Linked DNA regions of Homo sapiens: all the other regions are linked to region 3. Evidence: fine-mapped expression QTL. A gene starts in region 3. Each other region holds a variant in brackets. All regions are shown on one strand. Distances are between the middles of the regions. Region 1 overlaps EPB41 (erythrocyte membrane protein band 4.1). Region 2 overlaps LINC01756 (long intergenic non-protein coding RNA 1756). Region 3 holds the start of MECR (mitochondrial trans-2-enoyl-CoA reductase). Region 4 has its middle 7.3 kb from the start of TMEM200B.

Region 1 (8,103 bases), 270 kb before region 3:
TCCAATATTTAAGTAAATAAAGATGTCTAGGTATAGGGATTAATTCTGACTGTAAGGATTACAGAAATAAAATTCATGGAAAACATGGCGTGTGGGCAGGGCTTTGAAGGAGGGTTAGAATTTCAGCAGGTGGAGATGCAGGCTTGGGGTATTATAAAGAAGGCAGATGCAGGGAAGTGCAGGCTGTTTTAGGAAGCAGCAAGTAGTTCTAGGTGGGGCTGGTGGGAGAAGAGACTAGTGAGGGCAGATCACAGCCAAGCTGGGGTGCTATGGGAAAGGAGTTTGGATTTTATACCGTAGCTACTACGGAGCCTTTAAAAGTTTGATCTTTTTTTTTTTTTTTTTTTTTTTGAGACGGAGTCTCGCTCTGTTGCCAGGCTGGAGTGCAATGGTGCAATATTGGCTCACTACAACCTCTGCCTCCTGCGTTCAAGCGATTCTCCTGCCTCAGCCTCCAAAGTAGCTGGGATTACGGGCCTGTGCCACTACGCCTGGCTAATTTTTCTATTTTTAGTAGAGATGGGTTTTCGCCATGTTGGCTAGGCTGGTCTCAAACTTCTGACCTCAAGTAGTCCACCCGCCTCGGCCTCCTAAAATACTGGGATTACAGGCATGAGTCACCGCACCCAGCCAAAAGTTTGATCTTTCAATAAATATTTGTTAACTGATGAATAAAAGAGTGATAGGATTAAATCTTTGTTTGGAAGAGAAAACATTTATAGCAGGAGGGACTGGAAATAGGTTATTTATAGTCGAGTGAATTAGAGCAGAAACAGTAAAAATAGAAACATATAGTTAAATGCAGAGGTAGAGGTAGACTTGACAGGATTTGGCAAGTGATTGGGTTTAACTAATTTTTAACAAAAAGGGGAATAGAAGAATTTAAGGTTTTGAATTTGGGAAAATGGGAGCTATGTTCTTCCTTGCTCTCTTTTTTCTTTAGTTTTCTTTTCTTTTTTTTTTGTATTTTTAGTGGAGACATGGTTTTCACCACGTTTGCCAAGCTGGTTTTTGAACTCTTGGCCTCAAGTGATCTGCCTGCCTTGACCTCCCTCCCAAAGTGCTGGGATTACAGGCGTGAGCCCCTTCTTGAGGCCCTTTCTTTTTTTTTCTTTTCTTTTTTTTTTTTTTTTGAGACAGGATCTCACTCTGTTTCCCAGGCTGGAGTGCCGTGACTCAATCACTGCCCACTGTAGCCTCGACCTCCTGGCTCAAGTAGTTAGTCTTCCTGCCTCAGCCTCCCAGAAGCGGAGACTACAGGTGCATGCCACTACACCTGGCTAATTTTTTAAATTTTTATTTTTGGTAGAGGTGGGGCGTCTCATCATGTTACCCAGGCTGGTCTTGAACTCCTGGGCTCAAGTGATCCACCCACCTTGGCCTCCCAAAGTGTTGGGATTACAGGTGTGAGTCACTATATCCAGTCCTTCCTTGCTTTCTTGAATAAAGCATTTGGAATTGAGTCATCCTTTTATTAGGGAGACTGCATTATTATGAATAAGAACCTTGAGCTATATAGGATTTATTACCCCTACAATAAATGGTCAAGTTTGCTATAACTGGCCAGGCATAGTGGCTCATGCCTGTAATCCCAGCACTTTGGGAGGCTGAGGTGGGAGGATCACTTGAGCGCAGGAGTTTGAGACCAGTCGGGCAATGTAGTGAGACCTCGTCTCTACAAAAAAAAAAAAAAAAAAACTTAAAAAAAAAATCAGCTTAGTGTGGTGATTTGCTCCTGTAGAGGCTGTGGTAGGAGGATCATTTGAGCCTGAGAGGTTGACGCTGAAGTGAGCTGAGATTGTGCCACCGCACTCCAGCCTGGGCGACAGAGATCCTGTCGCAAAAAAATTTAAAAAAAGAAGGCCAGGCCAGGCGCAATGGCTCACGCCTGTAATCCTAACACTTTGGGAGGCCGAGGCGGGTGGATCACCTGAGGTGAGGAGTTCAAGACCAGCCTGGCCAACATGGTGAAACTCCATCTCTACTAAAAATACAAAAAATTAGCCAGGCATGGTGGCAGACACCTGTACTCCCAGCTACTCGGGAGCCTGAGGCAGGAAAATCACTTGAACTCTGGAGGCGGAGGTTGCAGTGAGCCGAGATAGTGCCACTGCACTCCAGCCTGGGCAACAAGAGCAAAACCCTGTCTCAAAAAAAAAAAAAAAAAAAAAGATGGCTATCACTTTGGATTTTGATGTGTCTCTTTCTTTCTTTTAGGCTGTTTCTTTACTCATTGTATGTATCTAGAAGAATCATAACCCCTTCTACTTTAAATTCATCTGTTACATTTGACAAACAAACTTGTTAGAATTAGGCAAAAAACAAAGGTAAAGGGACTCTGAATGAGGGCCAAAAGGGGCTTTCCTATATAATAAATATGTGTTTTATAGTGCTTTTTAATTCCTATGGCATTTGCAGTTTTAAGAAAAATCACCTTACATGAATAAGGTGTTAAGTGCTCTCCGAGAGTGTCCTGGTTTATTACGTTGTACTTTAATAAGAATTAATAAGTGGTTGAGTGATAGAGTTGTTGAATAAAGGATAAAGTAGCACACTAAAGCTTAAGATCATTGATGTAATGAAAGTAAACCAGGCTGGGAATCTGAACACCCGGTTTATAGTCCCAGTCCTGCCACTGTAGGACATTGAATAGGTGATGTTACTCATCTGAAATTGTATCTATTTTGATAACATGGGGATAATATCTCTTCTCTCTACTTGAACAATGAGGTAACACTGATGACCAAGTCATGTCCTTCCATGTGTGTGGGAATATGTAATACATTTCTCAGGAATACATATATTAACACTATGATTCTCATACCTTCACAAAAATAAAAATGAAAAATTCAACTTTATGCCAATGCAAATTACTATCATCACTCAAGTTTGATTCTTCCTTTCCAGATCCAGGAGTGGAATAAATCTTTACAGTACAGTTTAAATCTTTAGAGGAAACTCCCATCAATTTTCTCTTCTTTTGTGAGGAGAGCAAACTGGTTCCTCCTCTATATAGAAACCCATCATGGGTTTATAGCTTTTTTGGCAATAGTAATTTTAGTGTATTTGCCGTTAAATTTTAAGTTGGTTTTTGCTCTTATTCCTAAATTGATTTCTCTAGTTGATATTGGATTTTTTTTTTAATGGAGATACTAGGGTGGTGCAAAAGTAATTGCTTTTACTTTTTTTTTTTGAGATGGAGTCTCGCCCTTGTTGCCCAGGCTGGAGTGCAGTGGCGCTATCTTGGCTCACTACAACCTCCGCCTCCCAGGTTCAAGCGATTCTCCTGCCTCAGGCCCCTGAGTAGCTGGGATTACAGGGGCCCGCCATCATGCCCGGCTAATTTTTGTACTTTTAGTAGAGACGGGGTTTCACCACGTTGGCCAGGCTGATCTTGAACTCTTGACCTCAGGTGATCCGCCTGCCTCAGCCTCCCAAAATGCTGGGATTATTACAGACGTGAGCCACCGCTCCCGGCCATAATTGCTATTACTTTTAATGGCAAAAACCGCAGTTACTTTTGCATCAACCTATATAATTCATATACCATAAATTCTACACTGTACACTAAAATGTGTAACTTGGGGTTTTTAGTATATTCAAAAGTTGTGCCACTATCACTACTATCTTATTCCAGCACATTTTTGTCACCCCAGCAAGAAACTCTGTACCCATTAGCAGTCATTCCCCATTCTGGTTTTCCCCAGCCCCTGCAACTCTAATCTACTTTCTGTCTCTGGATTTGACTAGGTTAGAACTTTCTGTCTCTGGATTTGACTAGGTTAGAACTTTCTGTCTCTGGATTTGACTAGGTTAGAACTTTCTGTCTTTGGATTTGACTGGGTTAGAACTCAGGTCTGTCAGAATCCAAACCCCATTGCCCCTCAGTTTAGGTCCCCATAACTTTTTGTTTATGTAGCTGCTGGAGCATTTATGGCTCGCAGTATGTGTTGAACTGTCAGTAGTTGGGTGTGGGGTTCTCTCTCACCACAGATTTTTATGGTTTTTTTAATAAGGTAAAATTAAATGAGTGTTTGTAATAATAATAAAAATAAAGATATTCTCTATTCCTTTGTGTAACATTTTAGACATTTATATTTTTTCTTTTAATGGATGACCATGGGATTTTTAGATATCTTTGCATTCTTAGTGCCTTGTGCTTGGTGAGTGACAGTAGTCTTAATTGAACTAAATTGTAATTACATTCATTACTCTTAACGAAACCAGCTCCCATTAGGATGAACAGTTTTTCTAAAATAAAACAAGTTTGTTTTTTTATATATACATATAAAAAGCAATAACAAAAACAAACAAATGAAAATAATCCACCATCAATGCTTCTATTTATTTTGAGTGCCAATTTTGTTAGCATGAATGGGAAACAACTGACTTTTGAGAAATGCCATTGGATCTGGAAAGCCTGATGAGGGCTACAAGCTACATTCAGTAAAATCAGAATCGTGTGTGTGTGTGTGTGTGTGTGTGTGTGTGTGTGTGTCTGTGTGTGATTTTAGCCTTGTATGACCAACTAAATAAAATGTAAATCTGAAAGAATCATTTCAAGTTTCTGGTAACA[A/G]TGGAGAAATAACATGGAATTGAGAGTTAAGAAGCTTAGGTTTGGGTTTTGGCTCTGCCTCTGATGAGCAGTAACTCAGCCTAATTTTATCTCATAGTCCCTCTGGAGGAGAATGGGTCAGGAGATTCTTAACCTATTGTTGCAAAATTTTATTTTGGAACATTTCTGAGGAAAGGGTCTGTGGCTTTCATTAGATTCTCAGATCGTTCATGGCAACAAAAAGAACCACTTGATCAGATGATTTATCAGTCTCATTGAGGTTTAAGATTTTGTGATGCTTCATTATAACCCTGGTTTGACCAGCTTATATACCCAGGGTTACACCGTGAGTTTACACTCAACATTGTCTTTGAAGACTCAGAATGACTTTTAGCACATTTAAACTATTTTGGATATCCCATAGACGCGTCAACTTTTCTAAAAACAGAACAGTCATCCTTCAGTTAGTGCTTTTTTCTGACTCTGAAGCTGGTGCTATAATCCACTCTGTCATACTGTCTTTCTTCAGTACTTCTTGAATCCTTCTCCTTTTCTTCCATCTCAACAAACCTTGATTCAGGCTCTCATGATCTTTCATCAAACTTGTTAGGAGAGCTTCCTATTAGTCTATTTCTATTTCCTGTATCCGTTCTCTCTCACACACACATTAACACATATTTTACTATGGTACTTCCATATTTAACATCGTCTAATGGCAGGCTTGGTGGGGTGGCTTATGCCTGTAATCCCAGCACTTTGGGAGGTTGAGGCGGGCGATCACTTTAGGTCAGGAATTTGAGACCACTGTGGCCTGTCCAACATGGTGAAATCCCGTCTCTACTAAAAATACAAAAATTAGCTGGATGTGGTGGTGCGCCTGTAGTCCCAGCTACTCAGGAGGCTGAGGCAGGAGAATTGCTTGAGCCTGGGAGGCGGAGGTTGCAGTGAGCTGAGATCATGCCACTGCACTCCAGCCTGTCAATAGAGTGAGACTCTGTCTAAAAAAAAAAAATTAGCTGGGTGTGGTGGTGCACGCTTGTAGTTCCAGCTACTTGGGAGGCTGAGGCAGGAGAATCACTTGAACCCAGGAGGCGGAGGTTGCAGTGAGCCAAGATCGTGCCACTGCACTCCAGCCTGGGCAACAGAGTGAGAGTGAGACTCTGTCTCAAATAAATAAATAAATAAATAAAATAAATAAATAAATAAAATTTTCTAATGGCTTCCTGTTTTACAGAGAATAAGGTATAAATTCTTGACCATTGCAAAAGCAGGCTTTCCCTAATCTACCCTTGCCTGGTCTCAACCCAGTCTCAACCTCCATTGTTTTCTGTCATCCTATATTTTATACTCCAGCTATAGTGAACTTTGTGCTGCTTGCCATTCGGGTGCACATGCTTTTTCTAGATGCTTATCCAGTTGATCATGCCCTCTCCTCCTTTCGTCACCTAACTTAGTCCTACTTATCCTTTAAAGCTTAGCTCAGATTGTATATCAAAGGCCTTTTCTCTGACTCTGCTCTGCTTATTCTCTGCATATATTACTATATAATTGCTTGCTTTTGCCTGATTTTTAAAATAGACTGTGTACTCTTTGAGGGTAGAAGCCACATCTTATTTTTTTGCAACCTTGGCTCTTATCTTGGTGCCTAAAATATTATATGTTCAGTGAACATTTATGATGAATTCAGTAATTATTTAATTATTGCATGGGGTTTTTTGAATTAGTGAATAGGTTTTTAAATATTGCTTGTAGTTTTGGTAAAACTTTAATTATCATCTTCCTCAAAGGAGAAAAAAGAAAAATATTTAGTTGTTTAATTATGGGGAAAAAACCTTTTTTTGATCTTGTAATTCTCATAGGCCTCCAATGAGAATTTTATTTTATTGCTTTAATGTTTTCATAGAACCTAGTAACCCAGGAAAGCATTTTATAATTTTTTTTTTAGAACTTTTTTGAAACTGATTTCCTGTTGGGGTTTAGTATAGGGTATTATTACTTAAGAGAATAAGGTGTAAGTCTGGAGACTGTATCAAAGAGAAAGAAGATGAATGAATCAGGTATAGACACAGAATGAGGTAACAGGGTTTTTGAGTCTCTTGTTTGGCTCATGATCTTTTCAACACCATTGAAACACACACAACCTCATTTTTTTTTCAGAGCACATATAAATGAAGAATGACCTGGAGGTTAGGTGGGAATGGGTAGGACTGCCTCTCTCTGGACTCAGATTCCTGGGAGCTGACCCAGAACTGAATGCCCTTAGGGATTTCAAACTCATTACCATTTGTAGTGATGCACTTCACTCTGATCTCCTTTCAGTGTTACCTTTGTTAGAGACTACACTAGAAAGGAAAATACTTGGAATAAACTTTAGCGTTTTCAAAGTTTTGTACTGCCACATGGGATGACTATTAATTCCTTTTGGCTGGCACACAATAATTTAGCAAATTATTATTTTGTAAGCCGGGCGTGGTGGCTCATGCCTGTAACCCCAGCACTGTGGGAGGCTGAGACGGGTGGATCACCTGAGGTCAGGAGTTAGAAACCAGCCTGGCCAACATGACGAAACCTCATCTCTACTAAAAATACAAAAATTAGCCAGGCATGGTGGCGGGAGCCTGTAATTCCAGCTACTTGGGAGGCTGAGGCAGGAGAATCACTTGAACTTGGGAGCCGGAGGTTGCTGAGATGAGCTGAGATCGCGCCTTTGCATTCCAGCCTGGGCAACAAGAGTGAAACTCCGTCTCAAAAAAAAAAAAAGAAAAAATTATTTTGTAATTAAGTTACAGTTAGCATATCTACATCTGAAGTATCTTAGTACCTTGGATATGTAAGTAAGCATTTTGTATTCCTTCTTGGGTATATCTAGATTCTGTTGATTTCTTTACCCTTCACCAGATGACTCGTTCACATCTTTTATTATGAGGAAAGTAGTTTCTGGCCTTTGGACTTATCAAAATCAGTCTTTCTTTTGTTCATTTATTTGTTCAACTCATATTTTTTGGTGCAACATTCTGGGCAACAGGGATGAAACAATGAACAAAACAAGCACAATCCTTTGCTCCAATGGAGTTTACATTCTAGTGGGGGTAGACAAACAATAAACCAAATCAAGTAAAAACCATATAGTATGTCATTAAAGAGTAGTTAAGTGCTACAGAGAAAAATAAAGCAGGAGAATGAAGTGCAGCTGGGCCTCCAATTTTAGGTAGGGTGACCAAGGAAAGCCTCACTGGAGGTGGTATTTGAGTAAAAACCCAAAGGAAGCAGGCCTCGTGGCATCTGGGAGGTAGGTAGTCTTCCAGGCAGAAGAAACCACAAATCCTAAGGTCCTGGCAAATAGCATGCTTACCATGTTTAATAAACAACGAGGAGACCCAGGTGGCTGGAACAGGACAGGCAATTGCAAGGACTTTGCCCTTTATTCTGAATGGCAGGAAATGTCTTTGGAGGGTTTCTGGTCAGTGGATGATCTAACTGTACTTTTAGTAGGATCATGCTACCTCCTTTACTGATAACTAACTTCAGTTTTCAGTTCAGAAGCAGGT
Region 2 (8,103 bases), 110 kb after region 3:
CAAGTACTCTGGAATCAGAGTGTCCAACATCCTGCCAGTGCCATCTATTGACAAAATCAACACCATGCCAACTTGCAAGAGAAAACGTTCTAGTTTCACAAGCAGGCCATGAGGGGTGGATTTGGAACTCAGAAGCAATAAATGGCAACTGGTACAGGCTCCTCTCATTATTATTCTTAATCACCCACTTGGAGAATGTTTGCTTCTTGTCTTTGCAAATTTGAACTCTGCTGGCTTGGATATCTTTGTTCCTAAGGCAAGGATGGGGGGAATCCTAGAGGACACAACGTTGGTTCCAATGAATGGAAGGATGAGACTGCCTCTAGCCATTTGGGGTTCTTACGTCACCTATCAAACAGGCCGATAAAAGGGTTACTCTTTTGGATGGAATGATTGATCCTGGTTTCCACGGAAAAATTGGATTGCTTCTACACGATGGGGACAGGAGGGCTATGTCTGGAACTAAGGGGATTCTGCGGGTGTGCCTCTTAGTACTTCCAAGCCCAACTGTACAGGTTAATGGAGAACTTCATCAATCCAAAAAAGGCAGGATAATTGAGGGCTCCTATCATTCAAGAATGAAGTTTTGACTTTCTCTTCCTGGTAAAAAAAAAACCCCAACTAGCTGAGGTTCTGGTTGAGGGTAGGGAAGATTCGGAATGGGTAGTGGAAGAAGGAAATCATAGATATAAATTATGGCCTTGTGGTCAGTTACAGAAATGAGGACTAGAGTAGCTTTGCATATTTTCTCATTTATTGTTATGTGTATATATTTATGACTATGTTAATTGTTTCCTTCTCCTTCTTCCCGTTGGTATTATTCTTTTTCTTTTTTTTTTTTTTTGAGACAGAGTCTTGCTCTGTCACCCAGGCTGGAGTGCAGTGGCGCGATCTAGGCTCACTGCAACCTCCGCCTCCTGGGTTCAAGTGATTCTCCTGCCTCAGCCTCCCAAGTAGCTGGGACTACAGGAGTGTGCCACCACGCCGGGCTAATTTTTTGTATTTTTAGTAGAGACGGGGTTTCACTGTGTTAGCCAGGATGGTCTCGATCTCCTGACCTCGTGATCCACCCGCCTTGGCCTCCCAAAGTGCTGGGATTACAGGTGTGAGACACTGTGCCTGGCCTATTTTTCTTTCCAACTATTATTTCAGGTTCAGGGGTTACATGTGCAGGTTTGTTACATGGGTAAATTATGCGTCGCAGGGATTTGGTATACAGATTATTTTGTCACCCAGGTAATAAGCATGGTACCCAATAGGTAGTTTTTTGATCCTTACCCTCCTCCCAGCCTCCACCCTCAAGCAGGCCTGGGTGTCTGTTGTTCCCTTCTTTGTGTTCATGTGTTCTCCCCATTGTTATTTATATACCAGTTATTGGAGGTTAACTTTACCATATGGCCTTTAGGAAACAGAATATTCAGTGTGACTGTGCTGATTTTGAGGAGTTGTTCATATAGCCAGCAAGGGGTGAATGATGTTGGAACTACGTGTCTCCTTATTTTGAGGCAAGGGTGGGAACTTCCTTATGTGTACAAGGGATAACTGCATCTCCTTAGGTGGAAACACAGAGTTGCCTTGTTGTGAAGGGAAGTTTAAAAGTGTGTAGTAGATATATATGGAAGCTGATTCGTCAAAGGCAAGGACTGTGATGGTTCCACCAATTGTTTCTCAAGTCCACCCTTCTGTGTCCTGCTTTGTGTTACTGGAGCTGGACCCTATAAACATTTGTTTGCAGGCTGGTGCAATGTTAATCTCTGTCAATAGAGGGCAGTGGAGGGGTATTGAAAGGCTATAGAGATGGATGGCATTTCTTTGTTTTTTTTTTTTTTGTTTTGTTTTGTTTTTTGAGATGGAGTCTCTCTCTGTTGCCCAGGCTGGAGTGCAGTGGCGTGATCTTGGCTTACTGTAACCTCTGCCTCTCAGGTTCAAGCAATTCTCCTGTCTCAGCCTCCCCAGTAGCTGGGACCACAGGCACACACCACCATGCCCAGCTAAGTTTGGTATTTTTAGTAGAGATGGGGTTTCACCATATTGGTCAGGCTGGTCTTGAGCTCCTGACCTCAGGTGATCCACCCACCTCGGCCTCCCAAAGTGCTGGGATTACAGGTGTGAGCCACCGCGCCCAGCCTCATGAACAGTTCTTTACATTACATTTTCCATGTTTAGGTTACTGGTGTGGTCTCTGTCTTCTGAATGGTCTCTATTCACATACTCTCCACCCTGGCATCTGGCCTCCTTGCTGTCTCCATCTTAATCAGATTTGAGATGAAGATTTGGCCTCCCCCTTGCTCTCCTCTTGGCCTTTCTCTTCACCTCTGCCTCCTTCAGATCCGTCTTGGAAAGTCCCAGTTTCTGTGTGAACATGGTGAAGATGAGGATGTGGCATCTTCCCAGCATGCCTTGCAGAAAGGCCAAAGCCTAGAGCTGGGAATCAGGATGCCTGGGTTCTAGGCCCAGCTCAGCTTCTAACCTATGTCCTTTACAGGTGGGGAAAGTGAGGAGAAGTTGTGTCAGATGCCTACTTCCATCCAAGCTGCTCTAATGACCTGCAAAGGCTTTCTCCTCACCTCAATTTCCATGATGTTCTGTGATCCTCATGACAACCCTTCTTCTTACGGCTTGGCTGGATAGATCTTGTCATTATTATTCCACTTACATTATTATTCCAGTTGTATTATCGTTATTCTGATTAATACAGTGCTTCTTAACTGGGGGCAATTTTGCTTCCCAGGGACCATTTGGTTATCACAATGTGGTTTTGCTACTGACATCTAGTGGGTAGAGGCCAGCGATGCTGCTAAATATCCTACAATACATGGGACAGCCCCCGCCTTGGCCCCTCAACAAGAAATTATCTGGCCTGCAATGTCAGTAGTGCTGAGGATGAGAAGTCCTGAATTAATAGGTATAGAAAGAGGGGTCTTACAAGGGGAGGTGGCTTGCCCAGGGTCACACAGAAAGTGAGCAGCAGAGCTTGGATGAGAGCCTAGGCACTGAAACCCCTAGCCCTGGTCTTTTCAACCCTTCCCCATTCTTCTCCCAGGTCCAAGGGTAGGAAGGCAATGGAAAGCCAGTGAAACCTTCCCCGAGGAATTCTGTGCCTGCAGGTGGCTGACATTCTCCTCTCGCCTCCCTGCCTTACCAATCCCCAGCCACTTGCCAAGGCAGCCATCTGCTTTCTCAACTCCTGTTCTGAGCTGCTGAGAAGCTGCTGAGAAAACTGCACTTAGTGAGTACTGGCAACATCGCCAAGGGGTGATTGCCAACGTCAGCGGGCTCCAGCATCACCCATCGTTTCTGCCACCTCCCTGTCATCTGCTCCAACCGCCCTTCCCTTCAAGGACTATTCAGATCCTCCACCTTTCTTAAGTTCTCCCCTAGTCCCACCATCAGCTTTTTCACTCCCAGTAGTGACCTGACTTTCTCAAATACTCCCTTCTCTCCTGAACCTGTTCTCAGCCCGCTTGGGAAGAGGACTCTTAACTATCTCAGGACAGACTCTCTCCTCTGGTTGAGGGCCAGTCCGTTTCCACCTTCCGGACTGATTCCTTTCTGCCTTTGCGGGACATTGTCCCTATAGCGTTCTCTCTCTCTGTCCCCACTTCCCCCGGCATTTGTCAGCACCCCTGACTTCCCTGCATAAAGCCTGCTCAATCTCCCCCATACTTAATTTTAAAATAAATTCCTTTCTTGAAATCTTC[T/C]GGCCCCTCGAGCCACTTTCATTTCTTCCCCTCCCATCCACATACTGTTTGTACTGCCCAGATGAGCCACTCACCCTGCTTGCTCCAGCTGCAAACCTCCTACTCACCTTCAAACCCAGCTCAGATGTCAGCTTTCCTAAGATGCTGTAACAGATGTGGTTGGTGTCCCCCTCCCCTTGGCACTCTGAGTTCTGCAGTTACAGACAGTTCTGAGCATGCTGACAGCTTCCCACCTCAAATGCCTGCATCTCTTTCTCTCTCTGGCACCTGGAGAACTTGCTTGTCTGTGTGGCAGGTGTCAGCTAGGAGTACAGGGGACAGGAGGAGTTAATGCCTCGAGAGGTGGTGAACAGTGCCCACTACCCCTTGAGTCATGAGAGTGGGCTCTGGGGGCATCTTCCACGCAGGCCTCAGAGGCTCCCCAGCAGGACTGAGCCCCGAAGCTGCCGTCGCTGTAACCCACTGCCTAGTGCTTAGTTCATGCTTCACTGACTTTTCTCTTTTCCCCACTTAGTCGTTCCATTTCCACACTTTATCTGAGAGGGTTCCCCTCTCAGATAAACTATCAGCACTGGGGCCCTTGACTCAGGGCAAGCTGTTGAAATGACCATTTCCTGGGGTTGCTCACATTGGAAGCAACAGGTGGTTCATCCATGTGCTTCAAAAAGAGCACCCTTTGGGGCAGCCACCCTGAGACACACCCCTGTCCCCCTAACCCTGGAGGGAGTTAACTGCTCCCTCCTCCTGTTCCCTGATGCCTGTTATTGTTTCTTGACACAGAGTTTCTGTCTCTTGTTCCAGACTGTGAGTCCCTGAGATAAAAGCAAGCTCTTCCCTACCTCTGTGTCCCCTTAACCTGGCATGTCACCCTGGCACATCAGTGGCCAAGAAATGTTTACTGAGTGAGTGAGAAAAGGAATGGATGAAGGGGATAGGAGTCTCCAGGGCCACCCATGGTGGGTGACCAGCCCCGCGGAGAGAACTGTCCCATGGATGTGGTCCTCTCAACCCCGCCTTCTCCTCTCCGCCAAGGGGGCCTATCTCTGCCCACCCCTGCCTGGCCCAGAACCCCTCACCCTGACCCCCGTCCTACCTGCTATGATGCAGTCTGCCTGGTGCAGGCCAGGAAAAGTCCCCAGACAGGGGAGCGGGCCCCTCGGTAGGAGATTCCGGCTCTGGCTAAATAAAGGTCACAGGAACCCAGTGAAATGCTGTTATAATGCGACATAATTCAGTGCTGCCTTCCAGCAGATGTCGCTTTGGAGGGATGGATTTGTCCCAGCTGGACTCTGGGGTGCTTTCTGAAGCACACGGAAGAACCACCTGCTGCTTCTGATGTGAGCAGCCCCAGGAAATGGTAATTTTGACAAATCAACGTATTCAAGCCAAACGCATGGACCCAGTTTCCAGCAGGAGGAATTACAATCCTCGCTGAGGAAGTGAAACAGCTGCTGTGGAGCCAAGCGGCTGTACAGGCTACGTCCAGCCCCGAAGCCCCAGGGGAACAGGATGCTCCTAGCACAGATCGCCAGGGAGTCAAACTCAGCACCCTGGTCCCATAAAGGACCATTTTACAGATGAGAAAACAGGCCTGTGGCAAACTGAGGCAAAGGAGCGCTTGCCCAAGGTCACACACACTGAGCCAGTGGCAGACCTGGGGCCCTGAGCTGAATCCAGACAGCTCTGGCCCCACCCTCTCCCACGGCTCTGAGGAGCTGGCAGGTGAGACTCGTGCTGAAATAAAAACTAAAACAACCGACATCGTGACCAACTCACAGGTTGGGCCTGCCCTTTTGTTACAGATGCTGATCTGGGAATGAGAGACTCTGGGATCTGATGCTGGTTCTGCCCCTACCTTCCTGTGTGACCTGAGTTTCCCCATTCAAGGGGCATAATGCTCCACTTCCCAGGATGATGTGAGGATCACGTGAGGTCCAGGAGAAACTCCTTGGCACACTGTGTGAAAGTAAACCTGGGAACAGTGTTATCGTCACCCACACACCTGCAGTGATGGGATGCTGAGGACAGGGATGGTCCTTCCTTGAGCTGCTAGAAGTGAAGGAGAAACCAACGTGTCTTTTCCCAGGCACACAGCTCTGAGCTAGGGGAGGGGCCTCAGGGTGGGTTGTAAGTCTGGAGGCCTTGGCCATCCTTCCTCCCATAATGTAGGGGTGTCTCTGAAGCCATATTCCCCTTTCTGTCCCAGCAGGTGACATGGAATCTCAGCTCTTAAACATCCTGGCTACAAAGGTTTGGCAGTGCTGGGTTGGGGGCAAATATCTGGGGAAGGGAAAGAGAGAAAGAAGAGGCTTACAGAGAAATGGGGAGGAAGAAGAGGAGGGTGAGAAGAAAAGGAGGAGGTGGGAGAGGATGAGGAGGAAAAGAAAGACAGAAGGAGACAGTGGAACATTTGGAGGAGGACTGTTTCCATTCTATGGTACAAAATGCAAGCAGAAATTGTGGGCTCTAGAATCAGAAAAATCTAAAATCAAAGGCTGGCTCCACCGCTCAGTATTTGGGGGACTTTGGGCTAATCATTCAACTGTTCTAAACTTCAGTTTTCACATCTGTAAAATGGGGATAAGAACGGTGCCCATTTCTTAGAGATAATCTTGGCAAAGCATTCAGTACTATGCCTGGCCAGGAGCAAGTCCTCAATATGCAGTAGCTAGAGTGGCAGCAGAAGTGGGAAAAGGAGCTGTAAATCTACAAATGTGTGTGTTCTGGGAGAGTCTGGAAAACCCATCCCACTGGAAGGTAAGACGGCTTGTTCATGCAGAGGAGCAGATGGATTTGTCCAAGTTGAGAGAAGTCTGAAGAGGCACAGAAGCCCAAATCACACATGCAAAGGAATGCAGTTAACAAATTTTACTGTGAGGACAACAGTTTATGTATTAACGGTGGCTAAACTGATAAATATATAAGAAGCTGAGGCCGGGTGCAGTGGCTCACACCTGTAATCCCAGCACTTTGGGAGGCCGAGGTGGGTGGATCACCTGAGATCAGGAGTTCAAGACCAGCCTGGCCAACATGGTGAAACCCCATCTCTACTAAAAATACAAAAATTAGCCAGGCGTGGTGGTGGGCACCTGTAATTCCAGCTACTCAGGAGGCTGAGGCAGGAGAATCACTTGAACCTGGGAAGCAGAGGTTGCAGTGAACCGAGATCACACCATTGGACTCCAGCCTGAGGGATAGAGCGAGACTCTGTCTCAAAAAAAAAAAAAAAAAAAAAAAGCTGAAGGCCAATTTCATGTCAATAGATCACTCAGGAAGAAATGTACATGGAGAACCCATGAACAAATGACTGTCATGTCTCCTGTTAGGGAGACAGAGAGGGCGATCCACAGTGAGGGATCACTGACTGTGGGGCAGCCACACTGGGGCACGCACTGGGGTCCACAGCAAATGAGGTGCAGCAGCTGAAACAACACGCCCTCAGTCCCACAATGGGTGAGTAGTGGAGCTTGGACTCCAACCCACCTCTGTCTGCAGCCAAAGCTCTGAATTGGCTAACACCATGTCTGAAGGCTGGATGCTCCCAGGCCTGTAAGGCCCAGCAAGACTGGGGAACAGAGCAGCCCTAGACGGATGGGTATAGACACTTGGGGTGCGGGCCCCTTCCCTTTAGTCATGATGGGCCAGACAAGAAGTTTGGCTAGAGACCATGTCTGCAAGCCCAGGTTGGCTGTGCTGAGCTGCAGGCTTTCCATCTCCCTGGAACTGTGAAATCCTTGCAGGCTTTCCCCTCAGCCCCCACCAAGATAGGCACCCCCATCCCTGCACTTGGAGACTGGAGCTTTCTCTTCTTAGCAGATGCTACCTGGGTGGTTGTGACTACAGGGCTGTGGGTGGAGATGAGACAACTCAGGATGTACACATTTTTGAATTGGGATAAAATACCAGCTAAATATTTGTCCTAGATTTTTCCTTCTGAGGAATTGAATTATGAGATGCCAGTTGTTTTAATATGAGCTATGCATTATCACACACAGAGTCTATTACATGCATAGTAAGCCATACACATGCATACAGAAGCAACTACACACACAGATACACACCCACACACACAAAGAGGAGGACCTAGCAACTATTTTCCTAAGGGACCATTTTCAGGGCTCACTTCCAGAACATTGAATGGTTCTTAGGAAGCAGAGATAGTCTCCAAACTCAAGAAAATATTTTTCCTAGGACCTGTAAATGCTACACATGATAATTGTCCTAATCTTGTTCCTCTAGGTCCTCTACTATCCAGCCCTCCCTTGCCCTGAGGATTATTACTTCCCTAGCCCTTGGAGTACTCAGCTTCCTGGGGTCTCCCCGAGCCACCCTCCTTCATCTAGCTTCCAGAAGGTGAAGACAGAATAGAAACTTTAAGGTCAGAGCTCATCTGTGGAAATGG
Region 3 (8,103 bases):
AAGGGGAGGAGACAGAGAATGGTATTTCTAAACTTTCCCAGGATTGGGGCTGCCCTTTCTACAGCGTAGAAATTTGGGGTTACCTGAATGACCTACAATTTCACCTTCTCTTCTGACCTTTTTCCCAATTTTATAGTCCATCTCATTCTCAAAAATCATTTGAGACTTTGGGAGGTTGAGGCAGAAGGATCGCTTGAGCTGAGGTGTTTGAGATCATCTTGGGCAACATGGTGAAACCCCATCTATATTTTTTATTTAAAATATTTAAAAAAGTTTATTTGAAGAAATCATTTGAGGTGACTGCTGTTGTTTCCTCAGGCCTATGTCTATATCAAGGACTTTTAATAAAGAAGGGGCATCCTAGCTGTAAGATCTCGGATAAGTGCCTTTCAATCTACTTGAGCTTCAATTTCCTTATCTGTAAAGTGGAAGTAATAATAACCAAACTGGAGTGTTTTGATTTTAAAACCCCGTAATATACAGGGAGCATTTAGTCCAATGCTTGCTATACAGCAGGTATACAATAAATGAAAGCTGTTTTCACCAGAAGATCCAGAGAATGGCAAAGTTCTGAGCGGACTTTCAGGAAAAAAAGAAGGCAAGAGAAGAACTAAGCGTTTCTGGGAACTATCTTTTTTTTTTTTTTTTTTTTTTTTGAGACACAGCCTCACTCTGTCGCTGAGGCTGGAGTGCAGTGGTGTGGTGCAATCTCAGCTCACTGCAACCTCTGCCTCCTGGGTTCAAGCGATTCTCCTGCCTCGGTCTCCCGAGTAGCTAGGATTACAGGCATGCACCACTGTGCCCGACTAATTTTTGTATTTTTAGTAGAGACAGGGTTTCGACATGTGGCCAGGCTGGTCTCGAGCACCTGACCTCTGGTGATCCGCCCGCCTCGGCCTCCCAAAGTGCTGGGATTACAGGCATGAGCCACCATGCCTGGCCCCTGGGTTTCTGGGAACTATCTGATAGGGAATCTAGAACTCTGCACAAGGGACAGTGGCTATGGAGAACTCTGAAATTTCTCAAATGTTTGTCATTCTTCTGCACAGTCTTACTTTACTTAGATCTACAGTTTAATCTTTTAAATAAAAAAGGCCCAAATACTTATTTAGGGAATCCCATTTTGGAAGAAAGGGAAAGAAACTAAGCAACAGGGGAAAATGGCTTAGGAGAGAACAGCTGCAATGTTTGGAGGCCAACAGGAATGAAAACAGGGACGTGAGAACAGGAGAAACCTGGAGGCCTCCTTTTGAGGATTCAGACCTGAGAAGGCTGTTCCTCATTCCTTCCCTCCTGCTTGCAGAGGTGTGGCCCACAGCGCAAGCATCACAAACCACACTAGTTCTGACAATGCTCTGTTCAGACTCTAGGTAGTCCCATGACCCCTACCTGGTGTAACCTGACCCAGACAGCCAGTTACCAGGATGTGTAAAGGACACCTGATTCTTTCTGTGACAGTGTGGTTACCCTAAACCTTGTAAGACATGACTACAAAGAGAATCCCAGTCTCTGGCTTCAGTCCATACGAGAACAAGTAAAGCCGCCTGAATCTGGGTCAGAAAGTAAAGTTGCCCTTCTGGAGCACGGAGAGAATTACTGCTTGTCTGACAATCTGTATCCACAAGGCAGTGGTTCTCAAGCCTGGCCTGGGCAGCAGAGTCACCTGGAGAGCTTTGAAAAAAACAGAAGCTCCAAGCCATCCTAGACCTACTAAGTACCTCAGGAGTGGGGCCTAGGAATACATACGGTAGTTTCTAAAAGCACTACAGGTCAAGCTGGGTGTGGTGGTACACACCTGCAATCCCTGCTACTCAGGAGGCTGAGGTGGGAGGATCCCTTGAGCCCAGGAGTTCAAGACCAGCCTGGGCAACATGGCATGATCTCATCTCAAAATAAATAAATAAATAAATAAATATATATATAAAATAAAAGCTGTCTGATATTTTATGTGGGCAAATACAAAAAATAAAAGCACTACAAATGGTGACTGTGCTGTGAAGCCAAAGTTGAATATAATGCTTTGTGGAAGTATCTTTTTTTTTTTTTTTTTGAGAGGAAGTCTTGCTCTGTTACCCAGGCTAAAGTTCAATGGCGCGATCTCGGCTCACTGCAACCTCTGCCTCCCAGTTCAGGCAATTCTCCTGCCTCAGCCTCCCGAGTAGCTGGAACTACAGGCTTGCACCCCCATGCCCAGCTAATTTTTGTATTTTTAGTAGAGACAGGGTTTCGCCATGATCTGCCCATGTTAGCCTCCCAAAGTGCAGGGATTACAGGCATGAGCCATCGCGCCCGGTTGGAAGTATCATGTTTTGAACTAGAGGGAAATTACTGAAGTTCCACAGAAGGACATAATAGAAGCTTTTTTTTTTCCTAAGTGGCATCTGCAAACAGACCGGTCTGTTCCAGCTTCTCTGGCTCTCCAAGAGGAGGGAATCAATTAGGAGGCAACTGCATTCAGCTGAACTTTCCCAGGCCTTCCTCATCACCACAGCAGAACTTAATAAAAGGTTCACTTTTTTTGGAAATTTAGATTTAGATTGAACTAACATTTTAGGAGCACCTGTTTTGTGGCAGGTCCTGCTGCAGACACAAACTACAAGTCCGTGGGAGAGACACTACATGGTTCTCATTTGGGGTACATTCCTGGAAATGGAGGAGTGTTCATCAGAGCTGTACCAGTTCCTTACAACGCAGTCCTTAGTGAGATGTCTTCCCTGACACAATGCTTTATTACCTACGATCAACATACAATTTGGAGTTTACTGACTGATGTGTCTTCTTGACATTCTTTTCGTTTCTATAATGCGGGATGTGGCTAGGCTGATTGGATGACCTTGAATTTATCTGAGGCTTATCCTCACCACCTGTCAAAACATCTAGCTTGATTTTTTTTTTTTTTTGAGACAGAGTCTCGCTCTGTTGCCCAGGCTGGAGTGCAGTGGCGCAATCTCGACTCACTGCAACCTCCGCCTCCTGGGTTCAAGCGGTTCTCCTGCCTCAGCCTCCTGAGTAGCAGGGATTACAGGTGCCCACCACCAAGCCCGGCTAATTTTTTTGTATTTTTAGTAGAGATGGGGTTTCGCCACGTTGGCCAGGCTGGTCTAGAACTCGTGACCTCAGGTGATCCACCCGCCTCAGTCTCCCTAATGCTGGGATTACAGGCGTGAGCCACCGTGCCCAGCTCTAGCCTGAATTTTAACCATTAAAGTAATACCACATTTGCCCATCCTTTGGAAAATAATCAAACTATTTGCTGGGAATCAAAGAGTTAAAAAGAAGGTACTGCACAAGAGTATGCAGGTGTTTTTTGGTGGAGAGCACTACATAGATCTTAGGTGATTACCACTATGAACTTTGTCTGTACTGTCTCCATTTTTTAAGATGATGAAACCGAGGCTCAGAGAACCTCAGTAACTTGCCAAATGCAAAGCTAGGACAAGGATTTGACCCCAAGTATTTTGATTCCCAGACCTGTGCTTTTGCTTTAGCTCCACTTCAGTGGCCCCAATAGCCCTTCTGAATGGCTATTTATGTGCAGATTTACAATGGTTGGCAACTGACATACTATTTTTATCAACCACGTGCAAAAAGCATGAATTAAGATCCAACAGAATTTTAGGAGGAGGACAAAGTCATAAAAGTAACGAGAAGTTGAATGACTTCTCTAAGACCAAACAGCTACTAAGACGTTGAGCCTGTATTTGACCAAATATAGATACTTGGGTCTGTATGGCACCAAAGCAGCTCTTTTTAACCAAGCCAAGATGCATATACGGTGCAGTGGAGAGAAACATGAGTTTGGAATCAGAAGCCATGGATTCCAGTCTCCTGTTCCAATCACTTATTAGCGGTATCACTCTGGGCAAGTCCCTTGCCCTCTGGAAACAATGATCTATGACCTACTCTTTACTGACACATGAAGATCCAAATGGATGTAAAAGTATTCTGAAAACTTCTTCCAAATAATAATAATAATAGTAAGAACTCACGCAGGTCAGTCAGACATAGGTTGGAATTCTGACCCTGTCACTTACTGGCTGTGTGACCTTGGACGAGTGATTTTACCTCTTCTGCCTCAGTTTTCATCTGCAAAATGGGGATAAATCAATAACTACCCCAAAACATTGTTGTGACAATTAAATGAGAGCATCCATTTAAACAAGGGATTGCCTGACACAATATTCGATCAATAAACATCAGCCATTAATACCCTGATAATTGCCTCTCGGGTCTTCAGCTACCTTCAAGTACGGTCTTTCTGACCTACCAAAAACGCCCTGGGCTTCGGCTTCGGTTTGCTATTCTCTGCCCCCTTCCTCGGACCCTGTCCCTCTCTTCCCAGTCCGCAGCTCGTGTTAAAGCCTTCCAGAAACCCCAGTCCCCTTCCCCGGCTTCGGCGCCGTCTCTTACTCGACGACCTTGGCTGGATCCCCGTGGTGCCCATAGACAAGCGCCCGGACCCGGGCAGGCTCGGCGGATGCGGAGTAGGAGGAGGCGGCAGGTCCGTGACAGCCAGAAGCTGGGAGCAGCCCCCGCCACTGCCGGGCGGGGGTTCGCACCCGCCACAGGGTACTGCAGACCCACATGCTCGCTCCAACCAACACAGAGCCTGACGCCCCGGCTACGTCATCTTCCAGCGACCGCGCGCCTGCGCCCCGCCCCTGCCCCGCCGGGTGACCACTCCCCCTTGGTCCCTTTGAAGGGCGTTTCCTTCCTTCGCTGCCCAAGTGGTGGCGCCTGGCTAGACTGCGTGTGGGCCCCGGAGGGATCCGGGGGTGCGGAGCTTGCGAGGCCGCCAAAGCTGTTGTCTCAACAAGGAGAGTCTGGGGCTAGTCCAAAGTCGTGTCTACAGCCTGCAGTTTGGTGTTTGATTTGGAGGAAATATTTACTCTCCCTGGCCTCAGTTTACCCTTCACATAATATATTGAGTGCTCACCGAGCCAGGCTCTTTAAGGTATTATCTCATTTAATCACCACTACCATGTAACGGCATAGGGAGGCAAAGCTTACTTCCCTACACTGAGGAGAGTACACGAAAGCTGCTGTGGAGGCAGGAGTATGGGGCTTGGAGTTAGAAAACTTAGGTTCAAATCCTAGCCCTGCCACTTCCTAGCTTGGCCACCTTGGGCAGGTGAAACTCTGAATTTTTCTCATCGGTACAATGGGGATAATATGCCTCCTTCCGGATTGTTGTGAGGATTGGATGAAATAATAGAGGAATGCTATTGTGGGTGGGAGAACGCATTGTAAAAAACTCTGTTCAGATGTAAGACAGGAATCACAAGGAGAAGGGTCCTCTCTCAAAATGCTCACAGTGTAGAAAGGGATTAAGTGGAACACTGGAAATGCCTGTAAAAAGGTGTAGCCCTATGAAGGATCTAGTCTGATTTTTGGTGTAGGGAAGACATGAACATTACTAAAACCCCAGATCGAGCTGTGGCTCGTGCCAGAGTGCAATGCTGTAGTCTGAAGAGAAGTGCTCTGGGATGGGGTGGGATGGGGTGGGGGCTCTTGGAGGAGGTGCTGTTAGAGCCAGCCCTGTGATTCAAAATCTTCTGTGTGCATAAAAATAATCCGAGGTCCCATCTTAGACCTACTGAATTAGAATCTTGCGGATGGGGGTTCCAGGAATCTACATCCTTACAAGCTCCCAAGAATATTCTGATGCAGGTGTCCCAGGAAACAGGTTTTAAGATACTGAGCCAGGGCTTTGAAGGATAAGGAAGAGTTCCTTTCCTGGATTTTATTGACTTGAAGCTTGCCATCTCCAAGCCTTTCCTCTGAGGAAGAGAGCACAGCAAAGTACTGTGAGCTAGATTTGGACAAACCTGGCTTTATGTCCTAGCTCTGCCATTTTCCAGCCATTTGATTTCGGACAAGTCACCAGGCCTCTCTGTGTCTTCACTTTCTTACTCTTAAAATGGAAGGAATACTAGTTATCTGTTTCAAGATTGTTGTGAGGGTCAAGTGAGATATTATCCACTTGAAGCATTTAGTACAATGCTTGGCACATGGAAGCATTTGATAAATATTATCGGGGGTTATTGTGATTAAATGAGAAATATCACACATAAAACCCTCAGACTAGGGTCTGGCTTATAGTATGTGCTCACTAAATGTCTGTACTTGTTTTTATTATTAGAGAAAGTTGGTGTCCCATGGTGGGGGAAAGGCTTGGCCCCACATTTATGTGCCAGCACACACACGATGACCAGTCCTGCTTACCCTTTTCCCCAGTGACACATAGGCTTACTTGAACTGGGAAGTACAACGTAACCTTCTGTTGTAAGACTCCCTAGGTGACATTGAGATGTCGACATTCTCTTCTTCACCAAATTGGCTCCTCTGAATTTCTGGGGAGCCCAGTCAGGAAGCCTGAAGAATCATCCAGCAAGTCCTCCTCCTTGGGGCTGGACTTTAGCCTCCTGTGCATCCCAATAGCCCTCACTTTTAGTCTAGGCCATCTGGGTTCTTGCAGGGGCATAGTTTGAGAACTACTGACTGAGGGGTTCAAGTCCAATTTCCTGGACTTGCATTCAAGATTCTTTGCACTCTGACTCCCACACTGCATTTCCAGCTTCATCTTCTCCTGTTGGACCGTGCATAGCCTGTGATCCAGCTGCATCTGATACCCGTCTTCCCCAGTGTGTCTTGTGCCTTTATTCAGGCCACTCCTTCTGCCTGAAATGCTGTTCCCTGCCTCGGAAACTCCAGGTTCAGATGTCATTTCTTTGATGTTTCAAAACTCCCTAGGTCATCTGCTGCTGCCTTTGTGTTTTCCCTGGAGCTGTGTTATGGCCTTTAGTACATCGTCTCTTATTTATTCCCCTCCAGGCAAGACTGGAGCCATGTTTGGTTTATCTCCATAACACCAGCACCCGATATGAGCCTGGCACAGGGTAGGTGTCATAAATATTCCATGAGTTGCAGGTAATTGAATTTCCTCATGGCCTAGAACGGTCTGTGGTGCCATCTCCTTTTCCCTAGATTTGGGCTGGTCACTCCAGGCCAGGAATTTCCTTCTTCCTTCTTCTCTCAAGGATTATAGAAGTCTGTGGTCTTTTTTTTTTTTTTTTTTTTTTTTTGAGACAGAGTTTTGCTCGTTGCCCAGGCTGGAGTGCAATGGCGCGATCTTGGCTCACTGCAACCTCCGCCTCCCAGGTTCAAGCAATTCTCCTGCCTCAGCCTCCTGAGTAGCTGGGATTACAGGTGCCCGCAACTACGTCTGGCTAATTTTTGTATTTTTTTTTTTTTTAGTAGAGACAGGGTTTCACCATGTTAGTCAGGCTGGTCTCAAACTCCTGACCTCGCCTCTGCCTCCCAAAATGCTGGGATTACAGGTGTGAACCACTGTGCCCGGCTGAAGTTTGTGGTCTTTTAAAAGTAAAGCAGAAAGTCCTCTTCTCATCTGTCTACCTGTTGCTTGTGTTCTCTTTCTCCCTCCATTATAGTCTCTGCCATCTTCCCCTGCACAAAGGGCAAAGGGATGTGGAATCAGTCAGATCTGGGTTCAAATCTAGGGCCCGCCGTCTATTTACTAGCTGTGTCACCTTAGGCAAGTGTCATATGCTCTCTGAACCTCAGTTTCCACACCCGTAAAATGGGATCACTGGTAAAACTCCTATTTTGAGGCTCTCTCAAGAGCCCTCTGCAAACAGCACCCTTGGTTGTTTCTTCTGTTCACTGGTTTTCTCTCCTTGAGTTTCCTTTTCTGGGTGGGCCTCTCTGGCTCCTCTCTGCTCCAGCGTCTCTGTATCTTAGTTTCTTCCCTAAGGTTTCCCCTTGGTTTCTTCTTGCTTCTGCCTCCCTCTCCCTATTTAATTATCTGTGTCTAATTCTTGCCTGCTGTGTCTTTTGGTCCCTTTCCTAACTCAGTGTGGAGCTCATCAGCTCTCACAAGAGAGGAGACCAAGAGCCCAGGAACTCTCAACCCAGCGATACCTCCTCCAGCCCCAGGGCAGCTTCAAGGTGTGTCCATCTCAGCATGAAGCCAGCTAGGAGGGGCAGGGCACAGGGAGGGCCTACATATACCTTGAACTCCTACGCTTTGTTCAGTGTCACTGCCCAGTGGTCAGACCCATCTGCCCATGGCTTTCCCTACTT
Region 4 (8,103 bases), 99 kb before region 3:
GCCAAGATGGTACCACTGCACTCCAGCCTGGGTGACAGAGCGGACTCTGTCTAAAAAGGAAAAAAAAAAAAAAAGCTTGTATAATAGAAAGATGACCAAATAAGGAAACAAATGAGTTCTTCAAAGGAGACTTAGTGTCCAGGAAAGGATTCTATGGACCCTGAGAGGATTTAGAGAAGAGGTATATAGGCTTGAACCCAGGAGGCGGAGGTTGCAGTGAGCCGAGATGGCACCACTGCACTCCAGCCTGGGTGACAAAGTGAGACTCGGTCTCAAAAAAAAAAAAAAAATTTAAGAAAGGGTTCACATGTTGAGTGCCTGGCACAAAGTGGGTTCCAGCAAACACCTCTCCCTCTTCTGATCATGACGTTTCAGGTACAGAGGGTAGTGTTTGGGGTGGGTAGAAACCTTCCCTGGGGTCACTGGGGTGGCAGAGGAGGGAAGGGCCCCCTTTCCCAGATGTCCTGTTTAATTCTCTTGAGAGCTCCAGGAGGTCAGTGCTATGCCCAGTTCACATATGTGGTTTGGAAGAGGCAAAGCGACCTGCCCACAGGCACAGCCAGGCTGATCAGTGCCCACTTCTCTTTGGAGGGACCCTCCCCAGGACTGCTTGGTTAGGCCCTGTGAATGTGCAGATGTGTGGGCTGCTAGTGGCCTCAATATTGGGACACTGATTGCTCCCATGAGGCCAGGACCCTTCCTGAATCTGCCCTGGCATCTGTGTGACCTGGACTCCACTTCTGAACTTGGAAGGCCTGGATGAGATGTCCCCTGGGGACCAGGGGATGAACATTTCTCCCCTAACCTTCTCTGTGGAAACAGGAAACCTGATTCAGTGACCCCGAAGCCCCTGCCAACCTGAGGCTCCGTGTCCTCTCCAGAAGCCACCTCGCAGAAGGAATGGCTGTTGCCTCCTGCATGTCCGTCCCTCTCCGGGCCATGGAACAGTGGGGCCTGCAAATTCATTTTCTCTCATCCCCACTTTAGGAACATCCCATCTGGGCTGCCTGGGCTCCAGTCGTTGTCTCAGGGTGGCTGGAAGGGCTCAGAGGACACAGCCTGCTGCTAAGGTGGTCTCTGGACACTGTGCCTTACGGCTCCTATCCAGAGACACCACAGCCTCAACTAAGAATTTGGAGCCCAGCTTCAAAGGGGAGAGCATAGCCTGGTTTTGCTGTTGCTGCTGAGTCGTCCGCTGGGTGCTGGGCAAGTCCCAGCCCTTCTTGCCACCCCTGCCTCTGTCATGAGCCCTTTGCAGGTAGGACTGGCTTGCAATTCAGGGAGAGATGATTGGAAAGTAGAATCCAGAATCCCGGTCTCAATGCCCCATTATATAAGGGCAGAATCAATACCCAGAGAGGGGCAATGACTTGCCCAGGGTGACCCAGCTAAGGAATGGTGGAGTTGGGCTTCAAGCCCCATGGTCACAAAGTCCTATTTGGGACTCAGGATCTTAGAGGGCAATGGTCCTGAAATGTGAACCCCAAATCCATCTCCCACTGCATAAAACCTCTGACTTGGGTGAATCTGGGCTCCTGGAGAAGCCTGAGGGAGAATGAGCTCCCCATTTCCATGGCTTTCTGTAGCCCAGAGAAGACGCAGAGGCAGAGCCTGGGTAAAGCTGGGAAGGTCAAGGAGATGAGACCCTCCTGTGGGACAGGGTGATGCCAGCCTCCTGCCTGAGTCCTTTGGTGGAGGGATAACAGTAGGAACAGCACCATCTCACCGAGCTGCCCTGGCTACCAGGACCTTTGTACCCATCACTTCAGAGTACAAGACACTCCTGTGAGCCTGGCACAGCACTCACCTGTATCACACATGTGGAAACAGCTTCACCAGGTCCGGCCCTGTCTGTGGTCACACAGCTGGTCAGTGGCAGAGCCAAGGTCAGAAGCAGGTGTGGTGGGGTTGTTGTTTCGTTTTGGGTTTTTTTGAAATGGAGTCTCGCTCTGTTACCCAGGCTGGAGTGCAGCTCACTGCGCTCACGATCTCAGCTCACTGCAACCTCCGCCTCTCAGGTTCAAGCGATTCCCGTCACAGCCTCCTGAGTAGCTGGGATTACAGGCATGGGCCACCATGCCCAGCTATTTCTGTATTTTTAGTAGAGACAGGGTTTCACCGTGTTGGTCAGGCTGGTCTCGAACTCCTGACCTCAGGTGATCCACCCACCTCAGCCTCCCAAAATGCTGGGATTACAGGTGTGAGCCACCACACCTGGTGTAGTTTTTGTTGTTGTTGTTTTGAGATGGAATTTCACTCGTTGCCCAGGCTGGAGTGCAATGGCGTGATCTCGGCTCACTGCAACCTCCACCTCCTGATTTCAAGCATTCTCCTACCTCAGCCTCCCGAGTAGCTGGAATTACAGGCATGTGCCACCACGCCCAGGTAATTTTTGCATTTTTAGCAGAGACAGGGTTTCACCATGTTGGCCAGGCTAGTCTCGATCTCCTGACCTCATGTGATCCACCCACCTTGGCCTCCCAAAGTGCTGGGATTACAGGTGTGAGCCACCGCACCTGGTCCAGACTACTTGTTTGTTTTTGAGATGGAGTTTTGCTCTTGTTGCCTATACTGGAGTGCGATGGCACTGTCTTGGCTCACTGAAACCTCCTCCTCCCAGGTTTGAGCAATTCTCCTGCCTCAGCCTCCCGAAGTGCTGGGATCTCCCCTCCTCGGCCTCCCAAAGTGCTGGAATTACAGGCATAAGCCACCACGCCCGGATGCCAGTTTACTTCTTTATGCCTCTGTTTCCTCCTCTATGGAGGGCTATTAGGATCAAACCCCTCAGCTCTGGTAGCAGCAAACACAGCACAGTTGAGGGATGGCTTTTCTGGCCTTCAGCTGGTGCTCGCTTCTCCCCCCTGTAGAGTGTGAGACTGAGGCTACTGATTGCATCTCTTCAGCCACATCCTCTGGGCTGGCTGTTAGGGACCAGAAAGGAAGCAGCCCTGGGCCCTATCCAGATGCCTCAGGGGTTGGGGTGAAGACTCATCCACCAAAAGTGGAAGAAGCCACAGCTGACTGCTTCAGGAGGCATGCCCCCATAACCTCAGGCAGACGCTTCACTTCTCTGGCCTGTTTCTGCCTCAAACTGTGTCCGGAATTGGTGGGTTCTTGGTCTCACTGACTTCAAGAATGAAGCCGTGGACCCTCGTGGTGAGTGTTACAGTTCTTAAAGGCGGCGTGTCCGGAGTTTTTTCCTTCTGATGTTCGGATGTGTTCGGAGTTTCTTCCTTCTGGTGGGGTTCGTGGTCTTCCCGGCTCAGGAGTGAAGCTGCAAACCTTCGTGGTGAGTGTTACAGCTCTTAAGGCGGCGCGTCTAGAGTTGTTCGCTCCTCCTGGTGGGTTGGTGGTCTCGCTGGCTTTAGGAGTGAAGCTGCAGACCTTCCCCGTGAGTGTTACAGCTCATAAAGGCAGTGTGGACCCAAAGAGTGAGCAGCAGCAAGATTTACTGCAAAGAGCAAAAGAACAAATTTTCCACAATATGTATGGAGACCCCACAGGATTGCTATGGAGACCCCAGAGGATTGCCACTGCTGGCTCAGGCAGCCTGCTTTTATCCTCTTATCTGGCCCCACCCACATCCTGCTGATTGGTCCATTTTACAGAGTGCCCAGCAGTCTGTTTTGACAGGGCGCTGATTGGTGCGTTTACAATCCCTGAGCTAGACACAAAGGTTCTCCACGTCCCCACCAGATTAGCTAGATGCAGAGTGTGGACACAAAGGTTCTCCAAGTTCCCACTAGAGTAGCTAGATACAGAGTGTCCATTGGTGCATTCACAAACCCTGAGCTAGACACAGGGTGCTGATTG[G/T]TGTGTTTACAAACCTTGAGCTAGATACAGAGTGCCGATTGGTGTATTTACAATCCCTTAGCTAGACATAAAGGTTCTCCAAGTCCCCACCAGACTCAGGAGCCCAGCTGGCTTCACCCAGTGGATCCCACACCGGGGCCACAGGTTGAGCTGCCTGCCAGTCCCGTGCCCTGTGCCCGCACTCCTCAGCCCTTGGGTGGTCAATGGGACTGGGCGCCGTGGAGCAGGGGGCGGCGCTCGTCGGGGAGGCTAGGGCCGCACAGGAGCCCACAGAGGGAGGGGGGATGCTCAGGCATGGCGGGCTGCAGGTCCCGAGCCCTGCCCGGAGGGAAGGCAGCTAAGGCCCGGCGAGAAATTGAGCACAGCAGCTGCTGGCCCAGGTGCTAAGCCCCTCACTGCCCAGAGCCAGCGGGGCCTGCCGAGCTCACGCCCACCCGGAACTCGCGCTGGCCGGCAAGCACCGCGCGCAGCCCGGGTTCCCGCCCGCGCCTCTCCCTCCACACCTCCCCGCAAGCTGAGGGAGCCGGCTCCGGCCTTGGCCAGCCCAGAAAGGGGCTCCCACAGTGCAGCGGCGGGCTGAAGGGCTCCTCAAGTGCCGCCAAAGTGGGAGCCCAGGCAGAGGAGGCGCCCAGAGCGAGCGAGGGCTGTGAGGACTGCCAGCATGCTGTCACCTCTCAAGACTACCTGCCAATTACCCATCTCAGAGGGTCGTCAGAGATCGCTGAGCCCTGCCAGAGGTGCCGGATAAACCTTAGCTGCCTTTATTGTTATTGTTATTATTTCTGCTTCTATTAACTGAGCTCTGATGTTCTACCTCATATCTGTGGCCTTTTTCAAATTCTTTTTTTTTTTTTTTAAGACAGGGTCTTGCTCTGTCACCCAGGCTGGAGTGCAGTGGTGCAATCACAGCTCACTGCTGCCTCAACCTCCTGGGCTCAAGCGATTCTCTGACATCAGTCAGAGTAGCTAAGACCTCAGCCATGTACCACCACACCCAGCTAACTTTTGTATTTTTTTCTAGAGACAGGATCTCACCATGTTGCCCAAACTCCTGGCCTCCAGCGATCCTCCCACCTCAGTCTCCCAGAGTGTTGGAATTACAGATGTGAGCCACCGCTCCCAGCTTTTTCAAATTATTGAATGTTCCAGTGGACTCAGCCTGGATCAGACATCTATCTCCAGTCCAATCAGCTAAGGACTAGAGGGAGGGAGAGAACAGGGTCAGGAAGCCTGGACAGGCTGGACACGTGGATTCTCTCAGAAGCCTGGGAGGTGGTGATGGGGGTCCCTGCAAGTGACTGGCAGCCTAGGGAGTGCGCAGGCTGGACCTTGGGAGTTGGGTGATCCAAGGGCTTGAAGTAGGGCTGCTGGCTGGAAGTGGGACTGTGGGCACTCACCTGCCACCCGTGTGTCCAGCAGAAGAGTGAGGCTGGAGGGTCCTATGAAGATCTGCTTCTCACTTCTCCCTTTGGGAGGGCTTATAGGTCACAGGTCACAGCAAGGCACATGGGGTAGGAGAAGCCTCCATTGAGGAAATTACATATATGCCCTCCCCCGCACCACCGCTGCCACTGTAAATTAAGAAAAAAGCACTGTTGTGTTGGAAGGTGTGCCTTAGAGGGGGAGCAGGGCAACAGCCAGCCCTGGCTGACACCAAGAAATGTGTGTTTGGCTGGGCATGGTGGCTCACACCTGTACTCCCAGCACTTTGGAAGGCTGAGGCGGGTAGATAGTTTGAGGCCACACGTTCAAGACCAGCGTGGGCAACATAGCAAAGCCCTGTCTCTGAAACATAAAGAAAGAAAATGAAAGAAAAAGAAAGAAAGGGAGGGAGGGAGGGAGGGAGGGGCCGGGCCCAGTGGCTCATGGCTGTAATCCCAACACTTCGAGAGGCCAAGGCGGGTGGATCACCTGAGGTCAGGAGTTTGAGACTAGCCTGGCCAACATGGTGAAACCCTGTCTCTACTAAAAATTAAAAAAAAAATTAGCCGGGCATGATGGCGCATGCCTGTAGTGCCAGCTACTCGGGAGGCTGAGGCAGGAGAATTGCCAGAACCGGAAAGCAGAGGTTGCAGTAAGCCAAGATCGTGCCAGTGCACTCCAGCCTGGGCAACAGAGGGACTCCGTCTCAAAAAAAAAAAAAAAAAAAGAAAAGAAAAAGAAAAGAAAGAAAAGAAAAAAAAAAGTAAAGAAAGAAAGGAGGGAGGGAGGAAGGGAAGGAAGAAAGGAAGGAGAAAGAAAGAAGAAAAGAAAGAAAAGGAAGGAAGGAAGAAAGAAAGAGAAAGGCCGGGCGCAGTGGCTTATGCCTGTAATCCCAGCACTTTGGGAGGCCGAGGCGGTTGGATCACGAGGTCAGGAGTTCGAGACCAGCCTGGGCAACATGGTGAAACCCCGTCTCTACTAAAATACAAAAAATTAGCCGGGCGTGGTGGCGGGTGCCTGTAGTCCCAGCTACTCGGGAGGCTGAGGCAGAAGAATCGCTTGAACCCAGGAGGCGGAGGTTGCAGTGAGCCGAGATTGTGCCACTGCACTCCAGCCTGGGTGACAGAGCAAGACTCTGTCTCAAAAAAAAAAAAAGAAAAAGAAAAAAAAAAGAAAGAGAAAGGAGAGGAGAAGGAAAGAAGAAAGGAAGGAAGGAAGGAAGGAAAAAAGGAAGGAGAAAGAAAAAGGGAAAGAAAGAAGAAAGAGAAGAGGAGGAAGAAGGGAGGGAGGGAGGGAGGGAAACTGCGTGCACCGTGCAACACTGTGATTGGAGTGACTTGTTACTCCAGTGTAACCCACTGCCAACAGCCTGGTACTCGAGGCCGTAGTAAGCTCTTGTTAAATAGTTGGAAATGGGATGATTGCCAGTTACAGAACAATGGGCCTGGCTCATGCTGCCAGAGTAGTTTGAGAGCGGGTTCTTGCTAGAGCAAGAGAGAGGGGAGTTAGTCTTCGCTTGCAGCTGGAGCAGTAGCTGTCCCGAGTGGGCAGGGAGGCCCTGGCCCTCTCCTTCCTGTTGCTCTGCCCTCCCTCGGGTGTGGCACTCTCCCTGTTTGGTGGTTGAAGACACTTGCTGTTCCCTCTCCCGAGTCTGCAGACCATTGCAAGGCACCGAATGCACACCCAGAACGCTCATCCAGCACGCCCTTTTTCTCAAGTAGGGTGCGTGGCCATGTGGGAGACAACTCGGAGTCTTTGCCACAGACACCACGGGGACACGGCTCTTCCATTTGGTGACAAATCGCACTGCTGGTGAGATACTGAGCTGCGCGTCGCTGGGAAGGAAAGCAGAGGCTGGACCTCTGGGATTCCCGGTGAGAATCCTGCAGGGCAGGCCCCAGGTGGAGGGGGCGACCCCGGTCTCCAGGGCCGGGGGAGGCAGCGAGGCCCAAGGACAGGCGGCGGAGGCGGGAGGCGGCGAATGGGCTCCTCCCGAGGCCCGGACCAACCCCTGGCCGTGAGGCCGCGCCCCGCCGCGTTCAGCGAAGGGAAGCAGGCACCCCGCCCGGCTCTCCGCTGCCTCCACACTCGGGGACCCTGGGCGCTCACGTGTTCCCCTCTGGGCCTCAGGATTCAAGGATGCGCCCTCTTGCAAACAGTCCGTGGCCTGCGACAGAAAGAAAACCCCTGGGAGCGGTCGGGGTGGGGACCCACAAAACGCTGTGGCTAAACCGCATGGCGCCAAGCCCGATCGGAGCGTGGCGTGGGAATCGAGTCAAATTTACCCTGCTAGGTGCGGCTCCAACAAGGTCCCGGGTACTCCTCTAACGCCCAGTGAGGGCAGCACTGCCTTTGTCCCTGCCCCACGGACAGGACACGGAGGCTCCGACATACAAAAGGACTTAACCCGAGGGGAAATGTTAGAGCCGGGCTCCAACCCAGGACTTCCTGAGTCTAAGCCCAATCTGGCCCTAGACGAGCTGCCACGGTGGGCTGCACCCTCCACGGCAGGAGCTTGCCTGGCCTTGCTTCTTAGGTGAGTGTCCAGCCCAGGCCTTTAGAAGTTTGCTTCTTTATCAGGTCACATGTTTTTGGACATTTGTGATCACTGCTTTGCCATTGCAAAGGGGGACAAGAGGCCCAGGGAGCCCCCTCATTTACCAGCCCCTTCCTGGGAGGCTCAGAAAGCAGCCAGCTGCCCCCACATGCACGGTGGCCTGTGCATCAGTGTAGCTTGGCGGGTCATTTTACAGAGGAGGCGACCAAGGAGGTGGCAGGCTGCAGTCGGGGTCCCCAAGGTGATACCTCCATCTCCAGTGTCAAGGCTCTGAGGAGGGAGCTGGGGACCTCAGGAGGCAGTGGCAGTGG

The links. PIP is the estimated chance that this variant, and not a neighbour inherited with it, causes the effect.
Region 1: its variant is fine-mapped to the expression of MECR in prefrontal cortex (GTEx, PIP 0.98).
Region 2: its variant is fine-mapped to the expression of MECR in skeletal muscle (GTEx, PIP 0.95).
Region 4: its variant is fine-mapped to the expression of MECR in lung (TOPMed, PIP above 0.99). The same link has a PIP of 0.9 or more in adrenal gland, aorta, blood mononuclear cells, esophagus mucosa, esophagus muscle and fibroblasts.

The regions. Positions count from the first base shown.
Region 1 is chr1:28,958,885-28,966,987 of GRCh38, forward strand. The region is part of intron 1 of EPB41 (erythrocyte membrane protein band 4.1); the gene reads left to right. Among named protein-coding and RNA genes, the nearest start is that of EPB41, 48 kb to the left of the region's middle. RefSeq lists enhancers at 6,609-7,139, 7,140-7,669. The variant A/G (reference allele first, on the strand shown) is at 4,577.
Region 2 is chr1:29,339,338-29,347,440 of GRCh38, forward strand. The region is part of intron 1 of LINC01756 (long intergenic non-protein coding RNA 1756); the gene reads right to left. Among named protein-coding and RNA genes, the nearest start is that of LINC01756, 6.7 kb to the right of the region's middle. The variant T/C (reference allele first, on the strand shown) is at 3,702.
Region 3 is chr1:29,226,321-29,234,423 of GRCh38, forward strand. MECR (mitochondrial trans-2-enoyl-CoA reductase) reads right to left here and starts at 4,614. Exons shown (of 10, transcript NM_016011.5): 1 at 4,411-4,614. The coding sequence starts at 4,586. RefSeq lists enhancers at 3,990-4,490, 4,491-4,991, 4,516-4,625.
Region 4 is chr1:29,127,153-29,135,255 of GRCh38, forward strand. No RefSeq gene overlaps it. Among named protein-coding and RNA genes, the nearest start is that of TMEM200B, 7.3 kb to the left of the region's middle. The variant G/T (reference allele first, on the strand shown) is at 3,814.